Homo sapiens: one gene and its partners. The protein of the gene in region 2 interacts with the protein of the main gene of each other region in a pairwise test. Each region holds a gene or a part of one and is shown on either strand. Other genes may lie near its edges. The genes, in order: NXF2, HEXB, GPR75-ASB3 and ASB3.

The links.
Region 1: the proteins of HEXB (region 2) and NXF2 interact in binary tests that used the Homo sapiens proteins (3 or more experiments, as listed by UniProt).
Region 3: the proteins of HEXB (region 2) and GPR75-ASB3 interact in binary tests that used the Homo sapiens proteins (3 or more experiments, as listed by UniProt).
Region 4: the proteins of HEXB (region 2) and ASB3 interact in binary tests that used the Homo sapiens proteins (3 or more experiments, as listed by UniProt).

The regions. Positions count from the first base shown.
Region 1 is NC_000023.11:102,306,157-102,313,183, reverse strand, and holds part of NXF2 (nuclear RNA export factor 2), read right to left. Parts: intron 6,159-7,027; 5' UTR 6,106-6,158; coding exon 6,063-6,105; intron 1-6,062. UniProt on the Homo sapiens protein: Involved in the export of mRNA from the nucleus to the cytoplasm.
Region 2 is NC_000005.10:74,688,226-74,695,252, reverse strand, and holds part of HEXB (beta-hexosaminidase subunit beta isoform 1 preproprotein), read right to left. Parts: intron 5,926-7,027; coding exon 5,780-5,925; intron 1,615-5,779; coding exon 1,549-1,614; intron 1-1,548. UniProt on the Homo sapiens protein: Hydrolyzes the non-reducing end N-acetyl-D-hexosamine and/or sulfated N-acetyl-D-hexosamine of glycoconjugates, such as the oligosaccharide moieties from proteins and neutral glycolipids, or from certain mucopolysaccharides.
Region 3 is NC_000002.12:53,709,966-53,716,992, forward strand, and holds part of GPR75-ASB3 (GPR75-ASB3 protein), read right to left. Parts: intron 6,779-7,027; coding exon 6,601-6,778; intron 4,617-6,600; coding exon 4,419-4,616; intron 1-4,418. Other genes in the region: ASB3 (ankyrin repeat and SOCS box protein 3), read right to left, coding at 4,419-4,616, 6,601-6,778. UniProt on the Homo sapiens protein: Probable substrate-recognition component of a SCF-like ECS (Elongin-Cullin-SOCS-box protein) E3 ubiquitin-protein ligase complex which mediates the ubiquitination and subsequent proteasomal degradation of target proteins. Recognizes TNFRSF1B.
Region 4 is NC_000002.12:53,783,927-53,791,075, forward strand, and holds the start of ASB3 (ankyrin repeat and SOCS box protein 3), read right to left. Parts: upstream 3,028-7,149; 5' UTR 2,895-3,027; exon of another isoform or gene 2,359-2,894; intron 1-2,358. Other genes in the region: ERLEC1 (endoplasmic reticulum lectin 1 isoform 1 precursor), read left to right, coding at 3,285-3,446. UniProt on the Homo sapiens protein: Probable substrate-recognition component of a SCF-like ECS (Elongin-Cullin-SOCS-box protein) E3 ubiquitin-protein ligase complex which mediates the ubiquitination and subsequent proteasomal degradation of target proteins. Recognizes TNFRSF1B.

The DNA of each region.
Region 1 (7,027 bases), on a different chromosome or scaffold from region 2:
GTAGACATGGCAAGGAAGGGGCATGAGTACCTGACATACAGGGTGAAAAGGCCAAGGGATGGATGTGTGGGTCAGAAAGAAGAGGGTGAGTACAGAGAAGACAAAGAAACACACATTGAAAACGCCTCCAGGGAACTGAATTCATCCTGGCGATATGCTCCCCTCTGAAAACCCTCCTTCCTTCCTGTCCATGTACATCTTGTCTGTCCCTGTTACTTCACTTCAAGTTGAACACCAGAGAAACAGTTCCCACACAGTCCGAAAAAAGGAGAGATGGTATAGGGCAACACTGTGCAATGATGAGTCTCTTGGACAGAAGGCTGGAGTCGGGACATTGGTTCCAGAAACCACACCCATCATTGCCCAGCAGACTTTGAGTGGGCCCTGTCGTACTGCTCATTTCAGCCTTGACACAGAGTCGCACATTATTGGTTATGGGCCTAGGATTTGTGGTCAGATCCATCAGGATTTCAATCCTGGTGCTAAATTCTATGATCCAAGGCAACTAAGTGACCTCGCTGTGACTCAAGTTCTTTTTGCTTGTTTTCCCCCTAACTCAAAGATAGTAACAGTTTCTACCTCATGGGCTACTGTAAAAATTAAGTGAGTTAACACATGGAAACACGTGAAAAGCACCTGGAGAAATGCCCGTGACCTAACAAGCACTATAAATAAGTTGTCTATTACTATGTCGAGAACGTAGTACAACATCTGGCGTTTATTGAGGGAGAAATACGTGTTAGTTGCATTCGTTGTTATTAGTCCTCCTGGAAATGACAAGGAAAAGAGATGAGTGAGTGGCATCTGGTTGCCATGTCAGCTATTAATGTATCTTACAAAGCGGCAGTAGTAAAACAGGGCAGCCCCGGCTCCAGTGGGGAATCATCTGACATATGGGTTCAGGGAACCAAAACAGAAAGCTCAGAGCATGAAACAGGTTATGCGGAAGGATTCAGTAGGGAGCTTAAGTTCCCGTTTCCGATCTTTCAGGAAAAAAAAAAATGTATTATTATGCAAGAAATGTTTCAGGTTTAAGTGGCAGACTATAAGCAACAAGGTAGAATACTCGTCACGCCACGTGATACAAAGGGAAAGAAAAACAAAGTCAGGTTATAAAACTGTATATTACAGTATGATTCCTCAGAAGAAAATATTAATGAGAAGTTATGTTTTCATTTGTAAATATAAACACAAACAAGTCAGGGTAAAGGGACACGTGAGAATGTCAACCATGTGTAGAAGTAGGTGGCTGGAATGCAGAATGGTTATACTTTCACACCTACGCTTCATACTTGTATAAGAGGATGTTTATGGCCGGGTCAGGGTTTTGTCAAGTGCTTGGGGAGAAGCACTTTTCCTATCGACCCATATACAGCATAATGGAAACCGTTTATTACTGACAATCAAGTGTGAATATCTTCTCTCTGATTAATAAGCTAACCTCACTTTTGACGACTCATTCAACTTCTCCTGATCCCAGGTTCCTTACATGTAAAAATCAGAGATTAGGGCTAGCTACCACCTCAATCAAGATATAGAACATATAACACAACCCAAAAGGTTTCCAGTCGATCTCCTCTTCATCCCTTGGCTCCGTGCAAACATTGATATACTTTCCGTTACTATATATTCATCTTCCTGTTCTAGGATTTCACACAAATGGACTTGTGCATGCTGCACCCCTTTGGGTCTGGCTTCTTTAACTCGGCATAATGTTTCTGAGACCCATCCATGTTCTTGACTTTTCCTTGCTGAGTAAAAGCCCCTTGATGGATATACCATAATTTGTTCACCTTTGATGTTGTTTTAATGAAGTTTCAGGAGGAAGTGAAAGGAGATCCTTGCCTTCAAAAAGCCATCTTTCTTGGGCAGTCTTCTATTCTTTCGTAATAGACACAATTTCATCCTTTATCACTCCTTTGTCTCTCTGGGGAAATATTATCTTAATGTCTGTTTCAGCCTCTTCCATTCTTTCTGTTCCCTCAGTGCCAATTATTGGATTTGTTGAGTTTGTGCCATCCCTTCCTTGCTGATCCTGGGTTGTGGATGTCTTCTGCAGAGGAAGCTCCACTGCTGAATCAGCCCTGGGCTCACAGACACTTAGCTTTAATCCATACCTTGCTCTGGCCTTGCCGGCAGTTTAGCTTCAAGCCGGACACAACCTGTGGTGGCCCCGGCTTTACCACTGTGTTTTCCCATTTCCTTTCTCTTTGAAAAAGACAATCTTCTCGATGTCTTACATGGGAATCTTTATTTCATATTTTCCAGCGTAACTATGTATTTATTATTACTGTAATATTATCATTCTGAAACCACAATTATAAAATTTTAAAATTAAATATTGTGAAAGGCTTGCATTCTTATGATTTAAATTGTTCAAGCAGTTCTCAACCATGATTACACATTAGAGCCACTTGGGGACACTGAAACAATTCACTAGCACCAGGACACACCCAAAACAATCAAAGCAGAACCGTGGTTAGATCCAGGCAACCACATTTTTTAACTCTCCATGTGAATTGCAGTGTGCAACCAAGGTTGAAAACAACCGTGTTAAAGCCTCAGTTTTTGGCTTATGCTTGCCAGAGGATCCTAGCAATAGCTGCCTCCTCATTTTGCTGACTTCCCACTCAGCACTGTTTTGGGGACCCAGTGAGTCTATTAGCTTAGAGGTCAGCAACTTATTAGCTTAGAGGTCAGCAACTATGCCCTGTGGGCCAAATCTACCCCAGATCCCCATTTCCTTCAAGGTCTTTTGCTTGCAACCAATTTTGCTGCCAAGTACTCTGTTAATCAAGGTCCCAACTTGCCTATGCCAGAATTCACTCTAGCTCTTTTATACAAACAAGATATCTCTAATAAAATATATTACATAGCTTACAAAAACTCTGTGAGGGCCAGAAAAGCAGGCCTGGATGCTGCACAGCCAGGAGAAGTCCACCCACGTGATGGAACTGCTACAGCTGAAATACCACTGCTGCCTGCCCGTTAATTGACATGCATGACAGAGACTGAATTCTAGAAACTCTGCAATGGCTGCCGCATGAAAACTGGAGACCTCCCTCATCACAGGTAGTCCACCCCACATATGGCTCCCATGTTATTCAGTTCCACTTCTGAGTCTCATGTTGGCACATACGCTTGATGCGATAAATATCCCATTTGAGACCCTAACTGCAAGGGACTCTGGTAAATTGTATGTGTGTGAGAGTGTATTTGTGTGTGTGTGTGTGTGTGTGTGTGTGTGTGTGTGAGAGAGAGAGAGCGAGAGAGAGAGAGAAAGAGAGTGTGTGCGCACATGCGTGGGGTCATGTGCATGTGTGTTTCCTTTCATGTTCCAACTTTCTAGTCTCTACAGTACAGGAAAGCATATAAGAATGTTTAAGAGTGCTGGAATAGTTGCCAAGTAAGCAGATTCATCGTATATTTCACAAGACATGTTTTCTGTTGTAAATGGTATATTTACAATAATGATGGTATTTTCTTTGTTACAATGGTTTGTGTATGTTCGTCTTATAGCCAACAAACTTGTTAATCTCCATTATTATTTTTAATTTTCTGTAGCTTCTCTTGAGTTTCATATGAAGATAGTCACGTTGACAGCTTTTTCACTTTTATACACGTATTAATTTATGTATGTAGGCATGCATGTATCACAGCTTACCGCACTGCCTAGTATGACATATGGCTTACTGCACTAGACTCAGTACGACATTGAACAGAATTCGTCATACCAGTCATCTTTATCCCTTTTCTGATTGTAAGGAGAATACTTCTAATGTTTTACTATTAAGGGTGGTGTCTGATGGGGTCTATTGTTTTGATACCCATTGTCAGTTTAAAGAGATAGCTTTCTATATTACCGATCTGCTGAGAATTATTGGTATTGTTGTTGTTCAATCCCGGTTGGTTAATTTATTGCATACTTTTTTTTTTAACTGGATCTTTTGTGGTATTTGTCCTGTCCTCCTCCCTTTATTCAGCTAATGTGTTAGATTACATTATGGATCTCTTAAAATGTTAAACTCAGCTTGCATGCTTGGGATTAAACACAACCTCGTCATGCTGTATTATCTGCTTTACCCATTGTTGGGTTTAGTTTGCTATTAATTGATTTATATTATTTGCGTTTATGTAACTAATTCGGGTTGGCTAGTAATTTTGCCTTTGCATGTATTCCTTGTCAAGAATACATTGAATAAACCAAGGTTTTCTATTCCTTCAGTTTGGAAAGTTATATATATTTTTCCCCTGGAATTCATCTATTTAATCTAAATTTTCAAATTTTCACATCCTTTTCATAATGTGATCTTTTTCAATCTTTTCTGTCACTGTAAGTGTGACACTATCTTCATTCCAAAAGTGGCTGACCCGCACCACCTCGCTAATTTTCTCTGCCCGTGTGGCCAGAGATTTTATCATTATCCTGCGCTTCTGAAACACTGACATCTAGCAATTTTGTTCAACTCTCTCACATGGTGTTTTCACTTTCATCAAGGTAGGCTCTATTTTTTTATCATTTTTCCTCAACATAGCGGTAAGACATGGGGATTATTCCACATTAAGTAAATGATCAATGAAAAGTCCTTTCATCTACCACCTGGTTTTATTTTTATAATTGAATACAATGGATATTCAAATATCCAATACATTCCCTCATTTGGAAAAGACCTCTGGCTTATCAGTGCTGGTCTTTTTAACCAGTGCCATCGTGTCTATTCAATTAAACTATCAGATGATTAAGGAAGAGGGCATTGCATCATTGATGTAAAAGAATTTTTACTATAAGCTTCCTTTAAGAGAAGAGCAGGCAGCGTAGAAAGAAGCAGAAAGGACATCGACTTTGAAATCACGCCTGGGTGGATTCAAATCCTGATTCTGTCACTTACGGCCGATGTGATGTTAGGCAAGTACTTAATCCCTCCCAGCTTTGATTCCTTCATGCAGTAGTCAGTGCTGCCATTTACCAAGTGTTTACATTCTCCCCTGTACCAGGCACCTGGTAGGACTGCCCGACCCGACTGCCTTCCTTGGGGCAGGGCCGTGCATGTGACTAGCTCTGGCCAATGGGTTGTGAGTGACGAGTGACACGGGTTATTTCTGGGTCAGAACCTTTGGTTGTTGGTTTGAGACCCTCTACGGCTCTCTCCCACTCTGACGCAGTGAGTAACCCCTTTCTAGATGGTGGCTGCTCCATTAGTTTGGGTCTCTGAGTCATTCCAATAAGAATGGCTCAGAACCCAACATCCACCATCCCGTGAAGGATATGCACCTGGCATAAACATGCAGCAGGAGTGAGAAATAAGTCACTGAGGTTTGGGGGTTGCCTATAAGCACAGCGTTACACTCAGCCTCTCCTGACTCATATATCTCATCTGTCAATTAAGATAACACCCTCTCAGGACTTTCCTGAGGGTTAAATGCAGTAACTTGCATGACAGCCGAGGTTATCACAGTGCTTGACATATGACAGGGGCTCAAACTATGGCAGCTGTAATTATTAAGTAATAATAAAATGGTTCTGAAGAAGTGTGGTTTTTTATTGTGTAAAATGAGCGGTACTGCATCTGCTTGTCCTGACAGGTAAGTTGTATCTTGTTTTCAAGAGTGGGGGCACTTTATTTGCTGCCACAGGTAAGGCTTCCTAATGACTTGCATTTATGCACATATTGTCTGCCACCACCATGGTATCAGATGCATGCTTGGCGGTATCTCTGAAGAGTAAAAAAGTACAAAGATTCAAGCAGGAGAGACTGACTGATGACATGAGATAAAATGAATTAAAGAGCAACAATCAATGTCTTAATGAGCAGACTAGATTACAACTATTATAAACCCACATTCCATTGTTCTGAGTAAACAAAGGCACAAGGTTTTAAAGTGTTAGAAGATGTAGTCTGAACAGGGTTTCCCCAAATATTTTCTGAAGAACACTGGTACCTCAAATGCTCTGTGGAAAAAAATGTTCCATTCCCATACAAGTTGGGGAAAGTAGCCCCCCCTTTGAGACTCGTGTTGTTTATTAGCATATCATCTAAAAAAATCCTACAGTATTCGTTTACCTTCAGTTCTGTATGTCCCACACTTCTTTAGAGTAGAGCACATTTTGTTGTTGCTTTGTCCTGACACTACAGTCTCACAGAACGAACTTGGAAATGCTGAAATGAGAGAAAAATAGATTATTCAACCTACATGTAATATCAAATATCACAAGTGACAATATTCTCTAACCATCTGACAAGCAATATTTGAAACCCCGTAAGTTTAAGCACAATCTTGCTATTTGCTCAACTTCATTCACCCAATACCGCTTTCATGATGTACCAAATGTTATCACCCATGATTGTACCTTAAATCCATTCACTATACTTTTTTCCACAGGAAGAAAAGGAGAGAGTTTTCAGAAAGGAATCTAAGAAGCAATCATTAGAAAATCAGGGGTTGATGGGGGGAGAATCAGAAACAAAAGAGTGTGAAGCTATACTACTATAAGCTACTGAGAGATCCTAAGCGCACACACACACAAAAAAAATGTCACCCACTCCCAAATGTACTTTTTAAAGCCAATGGAGTTCAAATAAAGTATAACAAGTAAATTCTGAATCTTCACATCATGACGACTTGGACACTTTTATTGAAATATCAAATTCTCTTTTTAAAAAAATTCCCGATTCCCCTCTCTCCCTTTCGCCCACCCCCCTGAGCCCATGTTTAGAAGGTTTAGTAGAAAAATAAATCATGGAAACAAAGAGAATCTTTACATAATCAAATAAGAGACAGAAATTAAGATTGGGTCTGGAATCGTCTATACAAACTGGGATCTAGGCAGTCTCGAGTGTCCTTAATAACAACATGGTCTGAGGAGGGGCAGAGGACAGAATCACCTGGCACAGACGGTGAATCGGGCAGAGTGACAGGCAAGGGTAGGGCTTTTAGTGTGGGGGCGGGAAGGGGGGGGAATCCCATCAGGCTTCCACAGCCCTGCCCCTGAGAAACGACTTACGAGTTCATGAATCCCTGCCGCCCC
Region 2 (7,027 bases):
CAGCCTGGGCAACAGAGCAAGATTCTGTCTCAAAAAAAAAAAAAAAAAAAAGCGTCTCTTCTCCTTAGCAGACGCAGATGAGACAGGCAGATTGGACTAATAAAAGCTTAAAATCACTAATATTATACATAAATAAAATTACATTTGTAGTAAATATCTAGATATTTTCATATTCTATTTTGAATAAAATTATAATCTTATGGTATAAAATATATAGCATAACAATGATTATTTTAGGTAACACTCTGAGTCAGATTCCAAATCTTTATTTATTTTGTTTTTTGAGATGGAGTTTTGCTCTGTCACCAAGGCTGGAATGCAGTGGTGCCAGCTCAGCTCACTGCAACCTCCCTCTCCCAGGTTCAAGCAATTCTCCTGCCTCACCCTCCCAAGTAGTTGGGATTACAGGCATGCGCCACCATGCCTGGCTCATTTTTTTTTTGTATTTTTAGTAGAGATGGGATTTCACCATGTTGGCCAGTCTGGTCTCGAACTCCTGACCTCAAGTGATCTGCCTGCCTCAACCTCCCAAAGTGGTGGGATTACAGGTGTGAGTGACTATGATCAATCCCAAGCCTTTATTTTAATGACTAAGTTTGGTTAGTTCATGTTTTTTTAAATTCCCTTTCTAAAAACTCTGCTATTCGGAAGTCAGTACAGTATCTTATCTGCCTAGAAAGAAAGGTAAAAGAAACTTTTGAACAGCAAATGTCCTGAGGTCAAACTTTGAAGTTCAGACTCTGAAATTCTCATGAGAAGCTTTTCAAGTTACTCCCTGCCCACTGCCTCTAACCAACTCTATAGCATATTTGCCTTTTGACACTGTTCCTTATACAAACTTAGTTATGTTTCTAAATCTACAGGAATTTAAAATTAGGGAAGAGAGATGCTTGCTTCTGAAGTCAACAGAAGTGATAGCTGAAACAAAATTCCCTAATCAGGACAGGTTGGGGCCATGTGTAGTGCTATAAACATTACAGTCCCAAGAGCATCAATGAATTACAGCACTGCAGGAATGTAATAACCTTCAAACATTTTTTGAGAGGTCAAATGAGTTTTCTCCCATGCTGTATTTATTTATTTGTATTTTTTTGAGACAGGGGTCTTGCTCTGTTGCCCAGCCTGGAATGCAGTGGTGTGATCTAGGCTCGCTGCAGCCTCAACGTCCTGGACTCAAGCAATCCTCCCACCTCAGCCTCCAGAGTAGCTGGGACTATAGGTCCACACCACTATGCCTGGCTAATTTGTGTACTTTTTGTAGAGATGGAGTTGCACCATGTTGCCCAGGCTGGTCTCAGACTTCTGAGCTCAGGCAATCATCACCTACCTCAGCCTCTCGAAGTGCTGGGATTACAGGCGTGAGCCACTGTGCTGACCTCTCCCATGCTTTATGTAGTACATGTTCAATGGAAATCATTTTGGAACTACATAACAAAGCATTCTGTAAAGGATCTAAGGCGGCAAAGTTTTGCTGTGCTTAATTTCACAAAGCACCAACTGAAAATTTTCCTTTACTGGAAAGTAACAATGAAACTGCATGGAACTTACCTCGTAATGCTCCCCAAACTCTGTTGGCCTTAAGGACAGCCACTGGTTCTTTCACAAGTAAAGTATCTGTATTGAGGATTTAAAATCACACACACACTTTTGTTAATCCCTCAATGACACACAATAAGTTTCCTAAACATGTCATTGATATTTCTGGACTATTATTTTCTCCCAAGCACATGACCTATTTCTCTAACTGCCTCCTGTACATCTCCATTTGGATGTCCTGCAGGTTCCTTCGACTCCACATGCCCCAACAGAACTCTTCCCTCCCTCCTCCGCACACTTCAACCTGCTGGTCTTCTGTGTTCCTCATTTCAGTGAGTCACAGCACCACCATCCAGTCACTTGAGTCACTCAGAACGGGAATTTGGGTGTCAACTCCATGTTTCCTCATTTTCCTAAAAGAGTTAGTCTCTCCAACTTCTCCTCAACAGAGTAGGGTCCTAGTTAAGCTAAGAGTTTAGTTGAAAGTGCAAACATTCCTCAGTTCCTACTAATCCTTGGTAACGCCCTAGGTGTCGCTCAAATCTACTCCCTTTAAGGCCAGAGAGTATCTCCACTCTTTTGCATTCAGAATTTTCTACTTGCCCTGTACCCACCTTCCCTCAGTATCATCCAAATCTGCCTTAAGACTTACTCTCCAAATCCCTTTAGCTTAGTTCAGCTTTGTCTCACTCAATAAAAATAATTCAGCTTTGTCCCACTCAATTAAAAGTTCACATCATCCAGAATGGGACTCCAGTTAGCTGCTTCTGGTGAGAGGCTAATCTTTCAATCTTTGAAGCACACTCTAAGGTTGGCCCAATAGTCATTTAGTCTTTTAGAGAGGTCTGGAGTGGAATCAACCACATAGTAAACCCACAGATGGTAAAGAGATTGAAAGCTAAAGGGTGTAACAGCTTTGGACTTTGCCACGGCAAAGACACTGATGGGCTGGAGATTAATGATTTAATACTGTGTCCTCTGGGGTGGTTTATCACCTTCTACCACCACCACCATTCAGATGCTCACAGAATAGTTAGCTGCAGGTAGGCAAAAGTGCTCTATCAGTAGTGTGAGCATCTCAGGTGATAGTCTTCTGACAAGATAGCCTTTTCCATTAGATAACCACACTCCATTAGATGAGTTAGCCAATGCCAGGCTAAGAACTATATTGCTATTTATGAGCATAGTCTAATTATGTTTCCTCTACATCTATAGCAAATTCTTGTGTTGTTGTTGAGACAGAGTCTCACTGTGCTGCCCAGGCTGGAGTGGAGTGGCACAATCACGGTTCATTGCAGCCTCGACCTCCCAAGTAGCTGGGACTGTAGGCATGTGCCACCACGCCTGGCTAATTTTTCTCTTTCTTTTTTTTTTTTTTTTTTGTAGAGACAGGGTTTTGCCATGTTGCCCAGGCTGGTCTTGAACTCCTGGGCTCAAGCCATCTACCGGCCTCAGCCTCCCAAAGTGTTGGGATTACAGGTGTCAGCTACTGTACCCAGCCTGTATCAAATTCTTAATCAGCTACCTAGAGCTCACTGCTCCATTGGTCACTGTTTAAAAACATTTTTTTGCCACATTCTAGTTTTGAGATCTTCCAGAAATAGCACAGTCACCTAAAAAACATTAATATATTGCATATATTTGATACCAATTATTTTCTAATAGTTGACAACTGGCTGATATTAAACAGGACTGTAATTCAACTCAGTGGAAAATACATATAACAATTAGAAATTTGGTTTTCTAAATATATGGACACATAGCTATAGAATTTCCATTTTTACTTCACAACCAAGTTATTAGTGTTAACAATGATCACTTCCCTGAAGTGTGAAAGGAATTATATCATTGACTTTTCAGTTAGCCCATTCTGTATCTTTTTGCACCATAAATACATTTGTTTTGGAGGGTGAATATACAAATGACATATCTATATATTCTGTTTAAAAGCAATATAATATAGATAAGGCTAAAATCTCCTTTGAGATACTCACCTAACTCCCTCTACCTTCCTCAGAGGAAATACTTATCGGGCATTTTCTTAGGCTTGACATAGATGTACACGGAAGGAGAAAATATAGTATTGCTTTATGCGTGTGTTCCTGCACGTGTGTTGATATATAAACAGGGTCCACCTCTACACATAATTATACAGCTTCCTTTGTTCAACTCAGCAGTTTATCTTGTCAGTTCTCCATGTGTGTTCTCAGTAATACTGCTTCTTTATTCTTAACTGTTGTGATTATACTGTTTAGTATAGATTGACAAGATGTATTTAGCCATTCCTCTATTGATGGACATTGAGTTTTATTGACAGTTCTTCACATTACAGGCAAACTGCATCAAACATCCTTGATTTATGTGTCCATTTATCTGCAGTAAAAACTAGTCCACTTCTCAGGGCATGCATATTTTTATTTTTAATAAATAGTGGTGCTTTAACATGTGTCACCTCCTCCAACATGTCCTCCCACTCTGGACATTTGATATCTTGTTATTTCCATTCATATGTGTTACTTTTATCATCATCATCAACTAGTTTAAAGACTAAAAACTAGTTTATTCTTCAGCTGAAAATTTCACAATAACCTTGTCTCAAGAAACTTCCCTTTCAGAATAAAGAGGGTTTGTAGAACTGACTGAAAGATAAGCTATGACTCTCTAGTCTCGATACATTTCATTTTGTGGAATTTACAATCTGTTATCTGTATTGCCAATGGACAGCAAAGATTCCTTGGCAACGTAATGACCATTTCCATCTCAATTCAGGTTGCAAAACCTACTTCACATGGTGTCTGAGTGCTGAGTATCAATTGAAATGATACCTGATGTTGGTGAATTTTCCTATTTCTCTTCTAAGAACAGCTATGGAATTGAAGAGAAAGAAAGCTTTTTTTCAAAGAGATGTATTATTGAGAAATCTCATCTAAACCAGCAGGATGAAGACATGTACTTAACTGTGAGGCAGTCTGGGGGTAATGGAGTTGCTCTTTTCTCTAAATTTGTGGCATCCTATCTTTTTTTTTTTTTTTTTTTTTTTTTTTTTTTTTTTTTTTTTTTTTTTTTTGAGACTGTCTCACTCTGTCCCCCAGGCTGGAGTGCAGCGGCATGATTGCAGCTCACTGCAACCTCTGCCTCCTGGGTTCAAGTGATTCTCCTGCCTCAGCCTCCCGAGTAGCTGGGATTACAGGTACGCACCAACACGCTTGGCTAACTTTTTGTATTTTTTAGTAGGGATGCAGTTTCAGCATATTGGCCAGGCTGGTCTTGAACTCCTGGCCTTAAGTGATCCACCCACCTCAGCCTCCCAAAGTGCTGGGATTACAGGTATGAGCCACAGCGTCCAGCCTCTATCTTTACACTTAGTTCCCCTGTCTGCTCTTTCTTGCACGAATCTTATATTACACATGTCCTTATACTGCCCTTCTTTGATTCCTTGGTGCAATTCCACATTATTCTCAGGCAGTATACCCTATAGAAATGGCACGCCCACTTATTTGTTCTAAAACAATTTGGGAAAAGCCCTAGAGAATAACGTTTTAGGCAACAACGAGGACAAAATCATACAGCTAAATGTTGATTATATTGTACAGCAGATTACAAATGAAACTGCTGTACCCACCCTCTCCCCTAGCTCTGCATTATCTTTCTGTAAAATTAGATTATAAATAGAGATCATGGATACAGATGTTTTCAAAGACAAAAAGTTAAGAAATTACCTAGATGTCCAAAAGAGATTACCCAAGTCAGCTCATCCATATAGTGACAGAACATTATTCAGCCATTGAAAATGATATCACAGAAAACTAGTGAAATTCATGTTTAATTTATAATGTATTTTGCAAAAAAGCATGATATAAAAATACAACAAAAATACAAGAAGCACATGTACAGAATTACTGCCATTTTCATGTCAATGCTTATCATGTTTGTATTTATGTCTATGTAAAATGTTTACATGTTTTACTCTGCAAAAAAATACACCTAAAATGACAGTGATTAATTCTATCTGCTGGGATTATGAGTGATTTATTTCTTCTTCTGCACTTACTGTACTTAATAAATTTTCCACAAAGACTATGTACTACTTTTATAATCAGACTTTAAAGGTTATTTTTAAAATAGGAATCATAAACTCACTGGTTGAGAACTCAGTGGTTCCTAGCATGGAGTCAGTTTTTGGCACTTAAGTCCGTCAGCGAGCACCTGGGATATAATACACTCACATTGCATAGGTACTTACAAGACTCATCTGAAGATATGTTGGGGAAAGCATCACACTCTGACTGAAGGGTGATTGAGACAAGAAGTTGCTGAACCTGGGTTTTAGCCTGGAATTCAGCAGGTTCATGATGCCACTTGTAGAAACCAAAAATATAGCCATGATATCTGTTTGAGAAATAAATGTAAACACATTTTAGAAGGATTTTAGCCAAATTTTTAAAACAGATGTGCTAGTAACATTGTAGTTAACTCCTCAAATCCATGCTGCCCATTGTAAGTCCAACTAGAGATTCTCACCCCAAGCTGTACATTAGAATCACTTGGGAAGTTTTTTGAAAATCCCAACGTCCATGCCTTCAGAATCAGAATCTATTAGAATGGGATTCAGGCATGGGAATTTTAAATGCTTCCCCACACTCTGAAGTGACATATGAAGCCCCGTTAAGAACCAATAATGAAACCATCATGGTAATCCATCACTCTTGGGAATGAAAAACCAATTCTGACCAGTGATAGGATGTGGGGGTTAGGGGGAGTTCTGAGCAAATCACAAGAAAACTTCGTTTCTCTGTATGTGAGAGCTGGACTAGTTGCCACTACACTAAAGTGGACAGAGCAGAGATGGAAAGAATATGGATCCCTGGTAACACTGTTGAGCCACTTGGTCAACTTGCCCTAAATTCATCCCTACTTTTGGACATCCTAATGTGTGAAATAAGTTTTCCTATTGTTTGAGCCAGATTGAGTCAGAGTTCCTGTTACCTTCCTGCAAAAGTATCCTAGCTTACATATAAAGCCCCAAAAGAAGGTCCAGAATTCTCACCAGAGCCTTTAAAATTTACTTTTTGTTGGCCAGCTGCAGTGGCTCATGCCTGTAATCCCAGCACTTTGGGAGGCCAAGGCGGGAGGATCACGAGGTCAGGAGTTCAAGACCAGCCCGGCCCACATAGTGAAACTAAAAATACACAGTCTCTACTAAAAATACAAACAATCAGCTGGGTATGGTGGCAGGCGCCTGTAATCCCAGCTACTCAGGAGGCTGAGGCAGGAGAACTGCTTGGACCCGGGAGGTGGAGGTTGCAGCAGTGAGCCAAGATCGCACCACTGCACTCCAGCCTGGGTGACAGAACGAGACTCCATCTCAAAAAAAAAAAAAGTACCTTTTGTTGGTATCCAAAAATCAGAGAATATTAAATAAAAATTCTGTAAAGGCATTAAATATTGTAAAGGCATTAAATATTAATATTAATATTAAATACAAAAAAAG
Region 3 (7,027 bases), on a different chromosome or scaffold from region 2:
AGAAACCGAGGTTTCCTGCCAACACCCAGCCATATGAGTGATCCATGTCAGTGAGCCTCTGTGGAAGTTGATCCCCTGGCTCCTGTCAAGCTTGCTAATGACTGTAGCTTCATCTGATATTTAATGCAACTATAAGAGAAACCTCCAAGCCTGAACTGCCCACCAAGCTACTCCTGAATCTCTAACCAACAGAAACTCCAGAAGCTGCATGGCTGTGCCACGCCAGTCTGCACGCTCCAGCTGCCAGACAGCATGTCTTCCCCTTTGTTAATAATTTCTAATGGTTTACTTTCAAGTTAATTTACTCTTTCCTATATCTTTCATTTGGCTATGGAGTCCATGTAGTAAATTTTTCATTGCAGATTATTGTATTTTTCCGTCTTTTTTATAGTTTCTACTACTCAGCTGAGAATTTCTACCTTTTCATTTTTTCCAGTGTGTTAGCCTCATGAAGCACCATTATAAGAGCTGCTTTCAATTATCTGATATTTCTAATATCTGGACCATCTCAGGACTGGCATCTATTAATTGCTTTTTCCCATGAGATTTAGTAATGTTTTATCAGTTCTTCATATGTCAAATAATTTTAGGTTGTCTCCTGGACATTGTGAATGTTATGCTGTATAAATTCTGAGTCCTGGGTCTTGTTATAATCCTTTGAAGAACACTAGCTTTTTGGTTTGTTTATTTCAGCAAGCATATAACCTAGTTAGGTTCAAACTGCAATTTCTGTTTTACCTTATACAGTGGTTCCAACGTCAGCTCAGTTCTCAAAAGCCTTGACTTTCCTGCTTTAAGCTTGGACCCATGAATGTGCCACTCAGGGTCTAGCCTGAGACTCTGATGATAGTTCAAATCTTACTTTCAACATTTTGGGTTGGCTGGGTGCTGTGGCTCACGCCTGTAATCCCAGCACTTTGAGAGGCCAAGGCAGGGAGATCACCTGAGCTCGGAGTTCAAGACCAGCCTAGGCAACACGGCAAACCCTGTCTCTACAAAAAATACAAAAAAAAAAAATTCCAGGCATGGTGGCGCACAACCGTAGTCCCAGCTACTCAAGAGGCTGAGGCAGGATAATTGCCTGAGCCCAGGGAAGTCGAGGCTGCAGTGAGTCATGATCATATCACTGCACTCTGTGTGGGCAACAGAATGAGATCCTGTCTCAAAAACAAAACAAAATAAAAAACAATTTGGGTCTATCTTGTGCATTTAAAGCTTGGGGTAAGTCAGGAATATGCAAATTCATATGCACAATTAGGGTATCCGCTTCTCCAAGCTCTCTCTTCTCCAAGATTCCCTACCATTCTCTGGCCCACAGGGTTCCATTTACCTGATTCCTCTGACCAGAAAAACAGGCTTTCTATTGTGTCTATGTTTCAGCTTCCTCAGTAAGTTTAACAGGATCTATTTAGTGCTCTCTATATTAAACAACTGGTCAATTAATGTTACTGACTGATATTAGCTGCTGGTGCCACTGGTGCTACTCAGCTCCAGATCAGGGTTGGCCCTCAGGGCAACACAGCAGAAGAAAAAGAAGGCCAGGCGCGGTGACTCATGCCAGCACTTTGGGAGTCCGAGGCAGGCAGATCACTTGAGGTCAGAAGTTTGAGACCACCCTGGCCAACATGGTGAAATCCCATCTCTTTTAAAATACAAAAAGTAGCTGAGCATGGTGGCACATGCCTACAATCCCAGCTACTTGGGTGGCTGAGACAAGAGAATCACTTGAACTCGGGAGATGGAGGTTGCAGTAAGCCCAGATCGCGCCACTGTACTCCAGTCTGGGCAACACAGCGAGACAGTCTCAAAAAAAAAAAGGAAAAAGAAATGGGAAAATTCGTTTTCATGTGGGTCACTTCACCAAGTTACCACTCTCTTTCATAATCTATCTGCTTTTGTTCCTTTGAGAGTCCTCAGGTAGTTTCTTTTTGAATTTTGACCACAGTTTTTTGTAGTCATTAGAGAGAAAGAGAGAGGCTGTAGTGGAATTACTCCACTGCATGTTAAGAACTTCTTAGCATCACTGAAGTTTACACAGAAAAAAATTCTACAGAGTAACTGAGACATAAAAAGCAAACCAAACTGTGGAGTTCCTTAAAAATACAACTTTGGAGTACTTGTGAAAGGAAAAGAAAAAAAATCATTTATATCACTATTCAAGAATGAGATAATAGCTCCTATTTGCAGTTATCCCAGACACAGCAGAAAAAAATAGGAACCTTCCCTTCCATGAGTCTCTATAAAAAAATACAAAAAAAAAAAAATACATTAAAAACGCTTCTTTGCCAAAGACAGCAGAAGATAGTGAAGTAAATGCCACTAAATACTGTTTTTCCCATTAGGTTTTAAATTCCTAAAGGATCGTGTGTATGTTTCAGCTTCCTCAGTAAGTTTAACAGGATCTATTTAGTGCTCTCTACATAACAAAATGGTCAATTAGTGTTACTGACTGATTTTGTAGAAATCAAAGGAGAAAAAAGGGTCTGCCCCCTAAAATTTCAACTAATCTTGGAAAATCCAGAAACCTATTTAAGATCTTTCCCACCTAATTTCATTTATCCGAATCTACAGAAGGCATGAAACATACTGCCCAGCTCCCAAGGAATATCATTAATTTTAAGGTGTTTCAGAGTTAACAGGGGTACTACATTATATGGCTTAATTCAAACTACACTTATAAGGTGATGAGGCGTGAGCTTAGCTGCTGTGACCAGAAGGACCAAAAACATTGTTCATCCAAAAGATAAGATGAAGGCCAAAAAAGACCATCATCATATTGAACACACACACACACACACACACAGGCGCGCGCGCGCGCGCAATCCAAAATCATTATATTCTGGTCTAATAAGAAATGTTCAGTTCTGTAACGGACTTAAGATTTGGGATAGAGAAAGGCAACTAAAAGTTATCAGTGCAACCTCACTGAAGGTCAACTAAAGTAATTAGGGCTCTTCTGTTTAAAAAGACAAAACTTAACGGGGTACACAAGAAAATCCTATGAAATCATGAAAGTTATACATAAAGTGGGCCCCAGATACTCAGATTAACCAAAACCCAAATATTCAAACTAAAATGTATAAGTTTAAGAGGCCGGATGGGGTGGCTCACACCTATAATCCCATCACTTTTGGAGGCTGGAGGCAGACAGATCACTTGAGGCCAGGAGTTCGAGACCAGGCTGGTGAAACCCTATCTCTACTAAAACGTGTAAGCTTAAACTTGAAACAAATTATAGTGAACTACTAATTTTACATGGCAAATGTTAAGAGATAGTAAAGGCTGAAAAGCTTAGTAAATAATTTCTTGATAACTACTCAAATTAAATAGAGATTCATAATAGTGAATTCAAGAAGGCCAATACAATTTGAGGTATGCCTGCAACCTCTTCTGTGTCATTAAACACAATAGCATCTATCTTCATAACTTATTCCATTATTGGATGACCAGATATTACTCAATATGGCTGTTCTTACACACAGCTTTATTCTTAGTGTTTTAAAACTGTAAGAGTGTTATAGACAAAGTTACTGGCCAGACACTAACAAGGCAGCAGTAATTCTTCACTTAGTCTATTTCACAGAATTATGACAGATTAGAAAAATAATTAATTTGGGGGCGTTTAAAAACTTAATTATTTAGACTCACATCCAAAAATAATATAAAGCCAGGCATCGTGGCTCATGCCTGACATCCCAGCATTTTGGGAGGCCGAGGCAAGGGAACTGCTTGAGCCCAGGAGTTCAAGACCAGCCTGGGCAACATGGAGAAACCCCATCTCTACTAAAAATAAAAACATTAGCTGGGAGTGGTGGTGTACACCTGTAGACCCAGCTACTCTGGAGGCTGAGGTGGGAGGATCACCTGAGCCTGGGATGCAGAAGTTGCAATGAGTCAAGATGGTGCCACTGCACTCCAGCCCGGGCCACAGAGTGAGACCCTGTCTCAAAAAAAAAAAATTTTTTTTAATGCTATCCACCAAATACATTAAAAACACAATAATATCTATAAAACTAAAGTTTAATTTTTAGGCTTATATCTTATAAATTTGAAACGGTAAATGACCTGAAGCAGTCACTGCCTTACTTGATAAAGCCCCATTTTTAATTCTTGAATTGTTTTGAAGACCAAAAATATCAGCAAATTTCTGCGTCTACTTAAATTGTACGTATTCCCTAAGATTGCTACACTAAAAATATAATCCAGATCCAAAGAAGGAAGGAAAACAATGTGATATTATCACCTCATTTCTGCTTCAGCTTGACTGAAACATCATAGTTTTTTTCCTATTTGTGTTCCAAGATAGCAATTTAGCACTAACAGAGATACTAAGTTTCATCGTGAAAGAAAGTCACTTCAAAACACATCTCCATACAGCAAAAAAGAATAAAAAATAAAAACATAGCAAATATACATACTCCTTTTGGAAAGCCATGCACACAGGAGAACTGAATCCAAAAACAAGGCACGCCTGGGCGTCTGGGCTGTAGCCATTCCGGAGTAATATTTCTAGGCAATCTTCATGTCCCCCAAACACTGCTGAGTAAACAGGGCTTACTTTGTTTAGCCCAGTGTCACAGGCCCGGTTAGTAAGTGGTATTAACAAGTCCAAGATTCTATAAATACACAAATTCAGGAGAATTTAGTGTTTGTATATGTGCATAAATGTAGGCAACATTTCTATAGCACAATTTTTTTCAGAATTACCAACTGATTCATTTAAAGAAATATTTCTGTCTAGGGTGTACCTTCTACCAACAACATTAAACTATTACATGCTATATATTTACTCCAGAATGTTACACTTATTATTGCTTAATAAAAAGGTCTTTAAATACATTTGAAACAAAATTAATGTTCCTATATGTAAACAGAAAAGGTGCTCTTTTAATTTTATTACCTTACTAGCACCACCTTAACCCCCAAAATTCAAATTTTATGTTAGATATTTTAGGGTTTAATAAATTATTTAAAACATCATTCTACTAAGTATAAACTGGCATCAAGAAAATGCACTATTTTCCTTCTTAAAGTACCAACTAGTTTTTCTTTTCCAATTAGTAAAAATTTTTAAAGATGATAACTGGCATGAAATTAAGACTAATGTTTTCATCAGGAAGAAATTATAATTTGTGCTAAAATATTCTATTATCTGAAAAAAAAGTGAGCTCATTAAATATGGAGGCAGATTTATAAAGAAGCTGGCTCCTAGGTAGAGAAAGTTCTAAGAAAATAATTAAAACAAAAGTTCTTAGGTTATTTGTAAACTTACCTCTAGCAGTCAACTGGAAAGAAAAAAGGACTATTCTACCCTTCTAAAATTAAAAATAAAACTGTATAGTTAAAGCCAGGAAATTCCTTCTTTCTGGGAAAAGACAGACAGGGCTACTCTGAAGTATTTTCATAGTATTACATTTCTCTTTGTGACTTTTCCTCATGTAATGTATGTCTAAGATAACATTTAAGTAGAACTTACACTCACAAAAGGGGTTACCTTTGAAGTAGGCTATAAAGAAAATCATCAGTGACAATGAGAATTCTCAAAATTGAGAACAAATGCCCAGGAGAGTTTTGGTACCATTTAAAGTTCAGAGTACAATATCTAACACTTATGTTTAAATAAATGATCAAGAATTGGGGAAAATATCAAATTTTTAAATCTAAGTATTTTGTTAAAATAGTCTAATGTCTCTTAACTTTAATAAATGTGTTTAATTTTTTTAAGTAGGTGGGAAAAATTATACTCTCCCACAAGACATAAACATGCTTACAAATATCATTAATGAAATAGTAAAGTACTGTGTCACCTAGTGGCATAATGACCAAATTGCAGAATCTGTTTTCCTACTATGTAAACAAACTAAATTAAGTAATGAATATTTTACTATTACTTTTTAAATTAAATAATACTAATAGCAGCTATAAAAAGTGCTATTATAGAATTATGGCTCTAAAGATTCTAAACATGTATTTCTAAAAATTATTGACTGCCAATTTATGATAGGTAGCCATATTCTCACATATATTTCTAAAAATCATTGACTGCCAATTTATGATAGGTAGCCATATTCTCACAGGTATAACCAAGTTACTAGCTTCTAAGATTCCTGGAACCCCCATTTACTCTCTCTCCAATTTGAGGTTAGATCAAGAAAAGTTCAGTCAAAGGGTTTAAGACAGGGAGGACTACTTAGCACACACTCCAACAGGCATCACAAACTCAAAAGCTTTCTGGGGTCAGAGAGGTAACATGGATGGCCTCATCAGATTGATGCTTAAAGATGCCTGGGATAAAACTAGGGAGGAGGAGGCGGCGGATACAGCCATAACTAGAGAAATCAATGGGAAGAGTCAACACCCCGAGAAAGTCCCTGAGCCTACCCAGTCTGTAGCAATTCTGCCTCACAATATGAAAGTGCAGGAATAGTAGGAGCAAAAGACAGCATGAAGGACAGATTAGGGGTAGATCTGTTCACCCAGCAGATTGGTAGGGAAGAGAATATCAAAGACTTTGCCTAGAGGTGAAGGGTCTAGCCCAGATTTATTCTTTATTAGCTTTTGATTAAGAGACCATGTTTATTTTCTGTTTTTAACACTTACTTTGTATGGCCCATTTGTGCAGCTGCATGAATAGGTAACTGCCAACTGTCCTCATTACAGTAAAGATCAGGATCTGCCCCACTGGAGAGCAAAAGCTCCACACATTTTGTGTGTCCCTCTTGAGCAGCAATGAACAAGGGTGTAGCTTTGTCCAAGGCTTGACAATTGACATTTGCACCTAAGGGTACAAAATAAAACATTTAACAGATAACCCTAATACTTAAAAAAATCAACACAAATTTCAAAGGAACTACCATAAAAGGGTTTCGTAGCACGGTAAGCTTTTCCCTCTTCACTGAATGTTGGATGTTGTTATATAAACATATTTACTTTGCTAACTTCTTGGTAATCATTTAAATTGTCTTCGCTAAACTGACAGGGTAGCTCATGCCTGGAATCCCAGCAATTTAGGAAGCTGTGGCCAGAG
Region 4 (7,149 bases), on a different chromosome or scaffold from region 2:
GGCATGATACAAAAAAATCTCAGTAAACAGGTATGCAACTGACTTGTAAAGCAACTAGTCTAAATTACATGTGTGAGAGCTGGAAATACAGCTTCAGGAGCAAAATGAGTTTATTTTAGCAAACATGGTGCCATTATTAGGAAGCTAATAGGATACCTTAATTGGCAGAGGTAGAATTACATTTTTTCTCTGCAGATGCAATCATACTTAATAGTTTTATAGCGAATGATGATTGTATAATTACAATATGGTAAATAGTTGATAAGTTTTCAATGTTTAAGAATCAACCTATAAATAAAGCATAAAAGACTTGTACTGATTGATGTCCTGTGGCTCCTTAAAATGTGTAAAACCCAAGTGTAGCCCGACCACTTTGGGCACATGCTGTCAGGACCTCCTGAGGCTGTCTGTGACACGTCCTTAACCTTGGCAAAATAAACTTCTAAACTGGTTGAGACTTGTCTCAACTACTTTTTGGTTTTCATCCTCTATTACCTTCCTGAGGCTGCTGTAACAAATGACCACAAACTGAGCAGCTTAGACAGCATAAATTGATTGTCTCACAATTCTAGAAACTAGAGGTCAGAAATCAAGATGTCAGCAGGGCTATTCTCTCTCTCTGAAAGCTCTAAAGAAGGATTCTTCCTTGCCTCTTCCTAGCTTGTGGTGATTACTGGCAATCTTTAGCATTCCTTGTCTTATAGACACATACTGCAATCTTGCTGCCTCCTCCTTCCTGGCATGGCATTCTCCCTGTGTGTCCATGTGTATCCAAATTTCCCTCTTCTTATAAAGATACCAGTCACCAGATTAGGGCCCCCTTTGATTCAGTATGACCTCATCCTTACTTGAATTATATTTGCAAAGACCCTATCCCAAGTAGTTCACACTCACAGGTTCTAGGGGATAGGACTTAAACATGTCTTTTTGGGGAACACAATTCAACCCACAACACCCCCTACAATCAATTTTCCACACAGCAGCCACAATGATCTTCACAAATGTACATCGGGTCCTGTCCACTCTCCTGCCTACAGAGCTGTCTCCCTGGCCTCTTTCTGCTTCTCAAACTTCTTCTACCACTTTCCTCTTACACTCCAGCCACACTGGCCTTCTTTCTATCACTCCAACACATCAAGCTCATTCCTGCCTCAGGGCCTCTGCCTAGAAATTTGTCTGGCTCCCTTCTTTTCATCATTCAAGTCACAATTCAAATGTCACTTCCTCACAGAAGTCTCCTCTGACTTACGTACTAAAAGCAACACATCCTACAGGTATTGTCTTTCACATAACCTTAGTTTCTTTGCAGCACTTACCAATACTAGAAATTATTTTACTTATTTAAGTTCCCCTCTTACTTGAACATCAGCTCTATTGAACACAGATTCAATCACTATAGCCCTAAATGCTAAAACAGGACCTCACAGACAGTTTTCATTTTTATTCCGTCAAATACATCTCTTTTCCTTCATGACTTAAGACTAGTGCTTAGCACAGAATAAATGCTAAAAAAAAAAAAAATTGACTATTACTACTATAATAGTTTGCAATTATTTGTTTGTACAATCTCCCTGCCTAGACTGTGTGACCAAAGACAGAAACCCATTTATTTGGCATTTTACCAAGCCCAGGGGGGCCAGGCACAGTGGCTCAGGCCTGTAATCCCAGCACTTTGGAAGGCCGAGGAGGGCGGATCACCCGAGGTCAGGAGTTCGAGACCAGCCTGGCCAACGTGGTGAAACCCTGCCTCTACTAAAAATACAAAAATTAGGGTGTAGCGGCGCGCGCCTGTAATCCCAACTACTCGGAAGGCTGAGAAAAAGGAGAATCCCTTGAACTCCAGAGGCGGAGGTTGCAGTGAGCCAAGATTATGCCTCTGCACTCCAGCCTGGGTGACAGAGCGAGACTTTGTCTCAAAACAAACAACAACAACAAAAATCCCAGGAGTCTGGATCACATTAAGCATTAATAAGAAGTGCTGAATATAATTAGCGAATAACAATTCTGAAGAAAGTTATCTTCTTTGATACTATGGATTCCTGATGTTAAAAAAAAATTTTTAAGATAGAATATGGGACTGTCCTTCCTGCTTTTTGATTTGGTTCAAATCTGAGGAAGTGGGGGCGACCAGTCTTTAACAGATCTAGCAAGACTGTCGAGCTTTAGGGAATGGTAATTTCTCTAAAGCCAACACTCTATGTCCATTATATTGGAGATCAAAACAGACAATGGCATTTTTTCTAAAGAGGGGGAGGGAAAAACAAAACTTTTTGTCTAATTTGGGGATGCAGTCAGACGTGACTTAGTTCATAAACACACACATTCATCTGGCGCTAAACCTCACATAAGGAACCTTACCAGCTTCCTTGATAAAACAACACCCCAACACTTCAATCTAGAGATGGAGGGTAAAAATGTAGGGTTGTGATGTCTAGCTGCCCATTCCACGAGAGTCGCCCACCACGCCAAATTCGGAGGCTTGCGGTATTCACCTACGGGGAGATGGCGGGCTACCTCACCCCAGGTTTCCCCTAACACAGAGTTGCAGTCGCTGAACAAACTGCCCTGCGTTAGTCAGAAGCTGTTAAGTAACGAGATGGCCACGGTCCACAGCAGAAGAGATGGAGATAAGCCTCAAGCGGGAAAAATGAAGTGTACAAATGCCAAATGCGGAGAAAAAGAAGAAAAGCTGCAAGAAGGCAGGTCAGTCAGGAACACCGCCATTTCTCACATCTCATCGCTACTTCGAATTTTCTCATCTAAGGACCCGCACCCGCACGGTTCACACTGTCTTCTTCCCGCTATCACTCCGTGTGGGTCAAACCTCTGCCTGCCCACTGGAGAGCAGCGGGAATGGCTTCAGGAAGCGGCTGCCGCCTCCGAGACTCACCGACCTGCCGTGCTGCCACTTCTACACCGAAATGGCTGGTCCGAGGCCGCGTCTCCAGAGCTGCGTCCCAGAAGCCCCCGCTTTCGATCCCCACCGCGATGCTGCAGCCGTCCGAAAACGAGAGACGCGCAGGCGACGTCCCGGCCCCCGTAGGCGGACGGCTCCGCGACCCCCGGATGTTGATATGTCGTCTGCCCCGGAAACGGTGACAGGAGGCTCAAGGGGGCGGAGGCGGCGTTGCCGGGCTCTCCGGAAGGAGACGTGGCGGCGGTTGGGCCGGTGATACCCGGGCGCTTTATAGTCCCGCCGCCTCCTCCTCCACCTCCTCCTCCTCCTCCTCTCCTCCTGGAGCAGAGGAGGTTGTGGCGGTGGCTGGAGAAAGCGGCGGCGGAGGATGGAGGAAGGAGGCGGCGGCGTACGGAGTCTGGTCCCGGGCGGGCCGGTGTTACTGGTCCTCTGCGGCCTCCTGGAGGCGTCCGGCGGCGGCCGAGCCCTTCCTCAACTCAGCGATGACATCCCTTTCCGAGTCAACTGGCCCGGCACCGAGTTCTCTCTGGTCAGTGCCCTCACTAACCCCGCAGCCACCCCTCCTCCTGACACTAAGGGTTCGGCCTCTTCCCTCGGTTTTCTTTGCTTTTTCTCCCCAAGACCTTCTCTGCAGACTCTTACCTTCCCCAAGCCAAAGCTGCTTTTATGCAGCGTTCATTCATTCGTTCGTTCTCACGTTATGTGGATGCGTCCCCCTTGCTGAGCATTAGGGATCCAGCAATCACCTGCTCTCCACCTTTTCAATTCTGTCGCACTAGACCTTGCTTCCCAACATTCCCACCCTGCAGAAGCAGCTTTCGTAGAATAACGTCAGGTGCACTTACTCATCTTCCTTTCGGAAAATTAACTGTGGCTCTTACTTCACCAGCAGACTTCTTTCCTTCAGTATTACATGTCACCCTGCCCACACCACAGTACTTCAGACTCGAGTTCCCTCTCTCGTATTCGTTCTCCCTCAGTTGTATACACACACGGACATACGCAAACGCACAGCTCCAAGGGAACTTTTTCCTTTCCTAGTTGTTTCTGAGAGGGCTATTTGGCCTGTGAGATGTTAACGACCCTTTATGCAGAATATCCTTTACAGTTTTCATGTATTACGACTGTTATTTGAGTCCCCAGAACATGAGCTTCTATGTTGAGTTTTCCTGTAGTGAAGAACATTTGTAACCTCGCGGAAATGAAAATTCCCTCTTGGGGGAGTGGACCGCTGAAAAGTCTTCCTGTCCACGTGTACCTACTGCAGGCTAATAAATATTGTACTCTTATGACACTTACCATGTAGTAATTAACTCATTTACTTCAAATTGAAGTCCCGGAAAAAGCAAAATTTTTTTAAACTTTTTATTCCAATTACCTTCAAGCATTCAACTTGCAATACTTTATTATATTCTTTCATTACCATTTCATTGAAACAGTAAGTGACACTATGATGTCAAAACAAGATGTGTCAAGTTAATGGATGTTATTACCACATAGCTTTCTATTTGCAAGTGTTAGGGGTTTTTTGGTTTGGTTTGGTTTGGTTTGGGTTTTTCTGTTTTTGTTTGTTTTTTGAGACAGGGTCTCAGTCTGTTGCCCATTCTGAAGTGCAGTGGTACGGTCACCACTGGCTGCAGCCTCGACCTCCTGGGCTCAAGAGATCTCCTCAGCTTCCCAGTAGCTGGGACTATAGGGAAATCCCACCACTCCTGGCTAATTTTTTTTTTTTTTTCTAGAGGCAGGGTCTCACTATGTTGCCTAGGCTGGTCTCGAACTCCTGGGCTCAAGCAATCCTCGTGCCTGAGCCTCCCAGAATACTGGGATTACATGTGTGAACCAAATGTTCTGAATTTATCTAGGTAAATATTTTTCTGGGACGTCAAATTTCTCTTTGTATTAATGCCACAAAATATTGATACATTGAAATACCTATGTAAAATTTTGTTATGAATCAGATATAACTTTAGCAGGCTTGGAAGAGAATACTTTAATACCTGTTGTTGTATCCAAAGAGCACACTTGGAGTGAATATGGCAGATGTTTGAAGAATTATGTCATTAAAATTTTTTACTCTTGGCACCTGTGTTTTTTTTAATTTAAAAAAACTTGCTGATATGCAGCCCTGAAAACTTACTATAAGCGAGCGACTAAAACTAGCATTTTTAGAGGTCACTACCAAATTGTCATTCCATTTTCTTTCAGTCTTAGCATTTGCTACACCAACTTTTCACGTATCTAACAATTTTATTTCAAAAAAAAAATGCTTTGGCCATGTGCGGCGGCTCACATCTGTAATCCCAGCACTTTGGGAGGCAGAGGCAGGCGGATTATGAGGTCAGGAATTCAAGACAAGCCTGACCAACGTGGTGAAACCCCATCTCTACTAAAAACACAAAAATTAGCTGGGCGTGGTGGTGCACACCAGTGCTCCCAGCTACTTGGGAGGCCGAGGCAGGAGAATCGCTTAAACCCGGGAGGTGGAGGTTGCACTGAGCCAAGATTGCACCACTGCACTCCAGCCTGGGTGACAGAGTGAGACTCTGTCTCAAAAAAAAAAAAAAAAAAAAAAATTCTTTTTTTAGAAGCTGGAGTGCAGTAGGTATTTATAGGCATGATTATGCTCACTACAGCCTCAAACTCCTGGGCTCAAGCCATCCTTCTGCCTCAGCCTCCTGAACAGCGAGGACTACAGGTGGTCACCATTGCATCTGGCTTTTTTTTCTTTAAGTCTGTGCTACTTTGAGAAAAATCTAGAGTGTTCTGTGAATTGTCACAAGGCCTATGTCCTTTATGTAAAAATAAGCCACAATAGTCATTATCATTGGTCTTTTGATTTTTTTTAATACTTCTATAACCTTAAGGCTTCCCTTTGCATTTAACTGAAATTACTGGCTGGGCACAGTGGCTGACGCCTATAATCCCAACATTTTGGGAGGCCGAGCTGGGTGGATTACTTGAGCCCAGGAGTTTGAGACTAGCCTAGGCAACATGGCGAAACCTTGTCTCTACTAAAAATAAAAAAATTAGCCGGGCATGGTGGCACATGTCTGTAGTTCCAGCTACTTGGGAGGCTGAGGCAGGAGAATCGCTTGAACCTTGGAGGCAGAAGTTGCAGTGATCCGAGATCATGCCACTGCACTCCATCCTGGGCGACAGAGGAGTCTGTCTCAAAAAAAAAAAAAAAAGAAAAGAAAAGAAACCACTACTCTCCTCACCTGGCGCTGCCATTTTTTTTAATGGGCCAGTTGGTTGGACATTTGTGTTTGTGACAGAGTCTCGCTCTGTCACCCAGGCTAGAGTACAATGGCGCCATCTCAGCTTACTGCAACTTCTGCCTCCCGGGTTCAAGCGATTCTTGTTGCCCAGCCTCCCCAGTAGCTGGGATTGTAAGCGTGCGCTACCACACCTGGCTAATTTTTTTTTGTATTTTTAGTAGAGATGAGGTTTCACCATTTTGGCCAGGCTGGTCTCAAACTCCTGAACTCAAGTGATCCGCCCACCTCGGCCTCCCAAAGTGCTGGGATTACAGGCATGAGCCACCGTGCCTGGCCGCGGGTTGGACATTTGTATCTAACTAATATGCAGCTGTATGAAATAGGATAAGGTCCTTTGTCTGTTTACTAACTGAAATTGGAAGAGACTGGATTAGAAGATCTGAATTTTTTAAGCTTTAAAATTGTCTGCTTTAAATTGTCTTCCCATTCAGATATATCAAAACAATATATAATTATTTACAATCTTGCTTTCAGATTTGCTTAGAAAAAGTATTAAGCACCAAAACTGTAAAATGGGGGTTGTTTGTGTGTTTTGGTAGAGATAGTTTCCCTATGTTGCTCATGCTGGTTTCAAACTCCTGGTCAAAACTATCCTCTGGTCTCAGCCTCTTAAAGCGCTGGGATTATAGGCATGAGCCACCTCACCTGGCCAAAAAATTTGTGTATTTTTGATGTGTACATTAACTAGAGTTAATAATTATGATATTCTTTGCTTATTGATGTTTAGCACTCAGTTTTGTTTTTGTGTTAATATTTTCCTTCTGAAGTATCACCTCTGTCGTTATGTTTAATTATTCATTACTTTATAGAGTTCAGAGATTTCACCAAATTAAACCACAAATCAGTCTAATTTTCTGTCTACTTCTGTTGTTGATGTAGAATATATTTTACTCAGATTTTCCCAAGCACTACTATTTGACCAACTCCATGGTTTATAGCATGTCATATACATTG